Regions from separate parts of the Homo sapiens genome. Here region 1 is reported to be linked to region 2. Evidence: microRNA targets listed by miRTarBase, many of them from high-throughput screens and not tested one by one. Region 2 holds a microRNA gene; the other region holds the end of a gene's coding sequence. Distances are between the middles of the regions.

Region 1 (3,000 bases), 110 Mb from region 2:
AAAATAAAATGGACAAAAAGGCCAGGCACGCCTAAAGTACCTGCACTTTGAGAGGCCAAGGTGAGCGGATCACTTGAGCACAGGAGTTCAAGACCAGCCTGGGCAACATGGTGAAACCCAGTCGCTACAAAAAATACAAAAAAATTAGCTGAGCATGGTGGCACTCGCCTTTGGTCCTAGCTATTTGGGTCATCCTGAGGTGGAATGATCACTTGAGCCCAGGATGTGGAAGCCCAGATCACCTCCAGACTGGGTGACCCCAATTCAAAAAAAAAAAAAATTTAAAAAAAGGGCCAGAGATCTGTATAGACATTTCTCAAAGGAAGACATATGAATGGCCATTAGATATGTGAAAAAATGCTCAACCATAATTAGGGAAATGTAAACCAATACCACATTAAGATATCTCACCCCAGTTAAAATGTTCATTTGAAAAAAAAGAAAAAATAACAAATGCTTGTGAGGATGTGGAGAAAGGGGAACGCTCATCCACCATTGGTAGGAATGTACAGTAGTACAACCACTATGAAGAACACCATGAAGGTTCCTCAAGAAACTACACATAGAATTATCATACAATCCAGCAATCCCTTTGCAACCTGTGTCCATCAACAGATAAATGGATATAGAAAATGTGGTATGTATGGACAATATTATGAAAAAGAATGGGATTCTGTCATTTGTAGCAACATGGATGGAACTGGAGGTCATTAATGTAAGTGAAATAAGCCAAGCCTAGAAAGACAAATATTGAATGTTCTCACTCATATGTGGGAGATTAAAAAATGGGTCTCATGGAGGCAGAGTAGAAAGGTGGTTACAAGGCTGGGAAGGGAAGGGGAGAGTAGGAAATTCAGAAAAGTTAGTTAATGGTTACAAGAATACATTTAGATACAAGGAATAAGTTCTAGTATTTGATAGTACAGTAGGTAAATTATAGTTAACAATAACATATAATAATATACTTATATATACTTCTAACTTGCTATATCTTATTTTGAAATATATAACTATATTTTGAAATATATGTATATTCAAATACCCTGATTTGACCATTATACTTTGCATACATGTATCAAAATAGCACATTACAAGTACATTATCAATAAAAATAATAAAGTTATTTGTTGAATGAATGGCCTGTGGCTTTTCAATTCACTTGTGTGTTTAGGCAGCAAAAAATTATTTCTCCATTTGGCCTTAAGTGGAGACCCACTGGCCTGAATCTTAGGAAGCCTGGGTTCATTTTTATTTTTATGAAGAATGTAAAACATACTTCTAAGATGAGATGCATTGATAAGCTGTTACAGGTTTGAAAATCCTGAATGTTTATGGTAAAAAGCCATTTTGGAAGTTGAAGTGTAAATGTTTTAAATGTTTATTTTTGTAAATACTGAGTTTGTGTTTAACATCTGAGCCTCAGGTACTAAATACTACCTCTTGTCATTTTGAAAATAATGTTGGGTGCAGTGGCTCAGGCCTGTAATCAGCACTTTGGGAAGTGGAGACAGGCCAATCACCTGAGGTCAGAAGTTCAAGACCAGCCTGGCCAACACAGCGAAACAGTCTTTACTGAAAAATACAAAAATTAGCCGGGTGTGGTGGTGGGTGCCTGTAATCCCAGCTACTTGGGAGGCTGAGACAAGAATTGCTTGAACCCGGGAGGCGGAGGTTGCAGCCGAGATCACGGCACTGCACTCTAGCCTGGGTGACAGTGCAAGATTTCGTCAAAAAAAAAAAAAAAAAAAAAGAAAAGAAAATAATGTTAAAAAATGCAGTTATTTAATATAGTGTCTAGCAGACAATAAATGCTTAATAAATGAGTCATTTTTAGCTTTTACTCACATTTTATAATCTCTGCAGGAATCACATTACCTAGTGCAACTACTTCCCCAAAAAAGGACTCTAAGGGATCCCAGAGATTGCATCTAGGAAAAGAGCGTGTGTGTGTGTGTGTGTGTGTGTGTGTGTGTACGTGTCTGTGTGTCTGTGTGTAGTTTAAAAAAGAACAATACATGGCAAAAAAAAAAACCATGAAAGCATTATAAACTTTAAAATTTGTTTACTGAGAATCTGTTTATTAAGGAGTTAACATTTTAGAGTTGGTTCAATACTTTATGGAACTTAAAATCCTGAGTTGCCCCTCAATAATACAGACATCTACAGTACAGGCATTTGTACAAAATACTATAATTACTGGTGCTTAACATTATTAGACTTCTATAACTTCCATTTGTCAGGTAAATAAAACACTAACCTTTCAAAGTTGCTACAATTTTAGGAGTTCACAAATTCCTATTTCTCCAGTTTTTATTAGTACATTTTAAACCTTCTTTGGGGACTGGAAGCCAAACTCCTCAAACAAAAGCCTCAATCTGAACCAACACTGAGAGACAGTAATGTCAGAGGCTCTTTTGTTTTTCACGGAGAGCAAAAATACAGAATATATTTATTAATTTATTTTCCAATAAAGAGAATATACTTTGTATTTGGAGAAAAAAATGCTTAATTGTCAGGAGTTGCTTTCGGAGAATGATCAATAAGTTCCTTGTCAATTGTCTCATAGTAATACCAGGGTCCATCTCCTCTCACATGCATCAATTTTCGCACTTCCAGCTCCTTTACCCTGTAACAAATGGAACAGCAATATTGAGATTCCAGCACTTCCAATTATAAATTTAATGAGCCATTTCCATAAAGGACAATCACTGGAGTCTGCTTTTATGTAAAGTATAATGCTCCTCCACAGACCCTTATGTAGGCATACATCTGGTATATATCTATAACCAAAATTTGGGACTTATTTTTGACTTTTATTATGTTGCTTATATAGATAGCTATCAAACAGTTTTTTTGTTGTTTTTGTTTTTTTGAGACGGAGTCTTGCACGGTTGCCCAGGTCAGAGTGCTATGGCGCAGTCTCAGCTCACTGCAACTTCTACCTCCCAGGCTCAAGTGATCCTCCTGCCTCAGCCTCCCAAGTAGCTGGGACTACAGGGG
Region 2 (3,538 bases):
CCCATGTAAAGATTTGTATGTGAACAGTCAAAGAAACATTATTTACCAAAAAGTGGAGACAACTCTGATGTCAGCCAACTGGTGAATGGTTAGACAAAATGTAATCTACTTATACCACACAATCAATGAAGGAATAAGGAAGAATGAAGTAATAATACATGTTACAACAAGGATGAACCTCAAAAACATCATGCTAATAAAAAAATCAGGCATGAAGACCACATATTATATAATTTCATTTATATGAAATGTCCAGAAAAGGCAAATCTGTGGAGAAATAAAGTAGATTGGTGGTTGCCTGGGGCTGATGGTGAGAACTGAGATTAATTGCATATGAGTTCAGTAGATGTTTTGAGGATAATGAAAAGTGTTCTAAATCTGGATTGTGGTAATGGTGGCAAAATTACAGACACACTAAAAATTATTTACTTGTACACATAAAATGTATAATAAGATAGATGGATTTACGATATGTAATTTACACCCAATAAAGCAGTTTTAAAAAAATTGCCAATACCCAGGTATATTAGGGTTCTCCAGAGAGAGAGAACCAATAGCGTATATGTATACATAAAAGGGAGTTTATTAGGAACAATTGGCTCCCATGATTACAAGGCGAAGTCCTACAATAGGTGGTCTGCAACCTGGGGAAAGAGAAGCTGATAGTGGCTCAGTCCAAGTCTGAAAGCCTCAAAACCAAGGAAGCCGAGAATGCAGCCCTTAGTCTGCGGGTGAAGGCCTGAAAGCCCTTGGGGTGGACACTGGTGCAAGTCCCAGAGTCCGAAGGCTGAAGAACTTGGAGTCTGATATCGAATGGCAGGGGGAACAGAAGCAAGGATCCAGTACCGGAAAGGAAAAAGAGCCAGAAGACTCAGAAAGCAAGCTTATCCCACATTTTCCTGCCTATTTTGACCTAGGTATGCTGGCAGCCCAAGAGAATGGCACCCACCCACATGCGGTGAGTCTTCCTCTCCCGCTCCACCAATTCTAATGTCAACCTGCTCCAGGAACAACCTCACAGACGCACCCAGAAACAATACTTCACCAGCCATCTAGGCATCCCTCAACCCAGTCAGGTTGACACCTAATGTTAACTATCATGCCAGGATTCTCCCATTCAAATTAGACAAATATTGCTGGAGTAAAGTCAGGCATCAGTCATTTTTAAAGTTCCTCAGGTTCTGTTATGCACAGACCAGGTTGAGAACTACAGCCTATCACCATACTATTCAAAATACGCTCCAAGGACCAGCAGCATCTGTATCCACCTGCGCCCTGATTAGAAATGCAGAATCTCAGGCCCTATCCCAGGCCTACTGAATCAGAATATACATTTAAATAAGATCCTCACATGATCTAGATGCCAATTAAAATTTAAGAATCACTGCTGTATTACTTCGTATTTATCATAATCTTTTTAAATTTTTTTTTTACTTCTTTGCTGTCTACCACTAGGAACACGTGGTACAACTCCACAAAGAATGCAAAGTGAATAGTGCTTCAATCAAAATTCTGAGAAGGCAGGGTCCCTGAACACTACTTCTTCTTTATGCCTAGCAGAATTCCTGTCACAAAGCTGGTACTAAATTACACAATTGTTGAATAAATAAATAATTGTCACCCTCCACTCCATTTCCTTTTTTTAACCGTTAGACTCCTAGGAATAGTCAAGACCTAGATGAAAAGTCTCCTTTGCCAACTCCCAGGGCAGAGTCAGTTCCCATCTCTGTGACCCTGCTGGTCATCAGGACAGCACTAGCAGTATCAGGAATCCTCCTCCCATAGAAAGGGCACCATTAACCAACGGAGTTGTGTTATCCAAAGGGCTGGATCTTTTCTGCACAAATTAATCAGTTAATGCATAGAAAGCATTCAACTAGTGATTGTGTTATAAGAGATCTGCTCAATATTACTGTGTGTCTACCTTATGGGGACACATTGGTAAACAAAAACTGTCATGGACCGTGTCCTATCTGGGACTTATAATTCACTGTGGGAAATGGAGAGTAACCACTCAAAGATGTTGGCCATCTTAGCATGTTATCAAATGCCAGTCTTCTCATTTCTGAGAAGGTCTTTCATCCACCAAGTCTTTGTGTAGTTTTGCTTTTTGTGTGCTTCCTGATAATGCAAGGCATAATCTCAGCATGTAATTTACACAGCCTCCCTACTGCATGGAGACTGACTCTCCCAAGGCAGATGCTGAGAGGAGGATTCTAGTGTAAATCGTTTATTTGGAAGGTCTCAGGAAATACCAAGAGGGGCATAGGCAAGTGAGATAGAAAAGGAACAAAGCAAATTTTAAAAATGTGTTATTAAGTCAGATATTGCCTTAGAAACCTGGAGCTTGACCTCACCGGGGAACTACAGGAAGACTGTGTGGACCACACTTCAGAGAGTGGTCCTGCTTGAGGGCCAGAGAAGCTAGAGGATTTTCTACTACCTTCCCTATCTGTTATTAGCTGAAGGCTGCTTCCAGAACCATCAGCTCTCTAGCACTTTAGATTTGCTAAGAGTGATTCCTTGTTTGGAAGGGGAGTGAGGTGAGGAAGAGAGAATTGCAGGTGTTTAAAATAAACAGCCTTCCACAGGCTGCATGCCAAAGACATATTCTCTGAGAAGTTCAAGGAATATTGGCGGGGGGCAGTGGGGAGGGAAATAACAGACATTCAACCCCGAATGGACAAGGGACAACACTTCTTAATGGCTCAAAGAGGCTAACCTTGGAGAAGTGAGGTATTCAGGTCCAGAAAGTTTCTGGTGAATCACAGAAAAACAACTTTGTTTCCAAGAGGCCAAGTCAGTAGCTGGTAGCATGGAGAAAAAGCAAACTGAATGAAATGGAAATGACATTTCATTTGCCTTGCCATCCATTCTGCTGGCCACCTACAGTCCCTCCGAGGAAACACCCAGTGACCACTGGCTCAGACCTTTGCTCTTAGGCTAATGTTGCAACTTTATGGATATAGCCCCAAATATTATTGGGGGTATGTGCTTGTAGATGTGTAATGTTTAGGGGAGGGACTTTGGGGACCCATTGAAAGTCTAGGACCCAACCCACTGATGTGCAGTTACTAAGCAGAGCTGAAGGATCGAAGTCAGCCAAGCTGTCCACTCATTTCAATGTGGCAATCTTCCCAGTTAAGGTCTATGGTGGCAAATCAAATATTCTATTACATTATTTTTCAATTTCAGGCATTTCCCTGGCTGGACTCTTAAGTGGTATATTTTCCAAAGTTCTGAAACATTGTCCTGCTCACCATCTGCCTTGATGGGCTGACATATTGGACACCGAGTCTGGGACCAAAACATGTGTGACCCAAGGACACCATTTTGTCACAGGCTTATAGTGCCTGAGGAATGATGGAAACATGGAGATCTCAACCCAGCTGAACCAAACACCATGGATCCATACAAATGGCTTCTCTAGCATTGCTGGTATTTATTCAGCATTTATTAGGTGAATGTAGGTTAGCTTTACCTAAAAATTTTTACTGTCTCCTTTTCTCCAATGAGTACTATGACAATTTGGCCTTTC

What was found. The annotated mature microRNA hsa-miR-4272 reads CAUUCAACUAGUGAUUGU and lies in region 2 at 1,870-1,887, shown strand. An mRNA with a match to its seed (bases 2 to 7 or 8) in the 3' UTR can be bound and repressed. Matches are read on the target gene's strand: a 7mer-m8 pairs with bases 2 to 8, a 7mer-A1 pairs with bases 2 to 7 and ends in A, and an 8mer does both.
Region 1: the mRNA of NDUFB5 is a reported target of hsa-miR-4272. Seed matches in the 3' UTR shown: 7mer-A1 at 1,032-1,038.

Annotation. Positions count from the first base shown.
Region 1 is chr3:179,623,546-179,626,545 of GRCh38, reverse strand. NDUFB5 (NADH:ubiquinone oxidoreductase subunit B5) reads right to left here. Exons shown (of 6, transcript NM_002492.4): 6 at 1-2,626. The coding sequence ends at 2,506. Among named protein-coding and RNA genes, the nearest start is that of NDUFB5, 20 kb to the right of the region's middle.
Region 2 is chr3:67,223,631-67,227,168 of GRCh38, forward strand. It overlaps MIR4272 (microRNA 4272), which reads left to right and starts at 1,834; the gene lies at 1,834-1,897.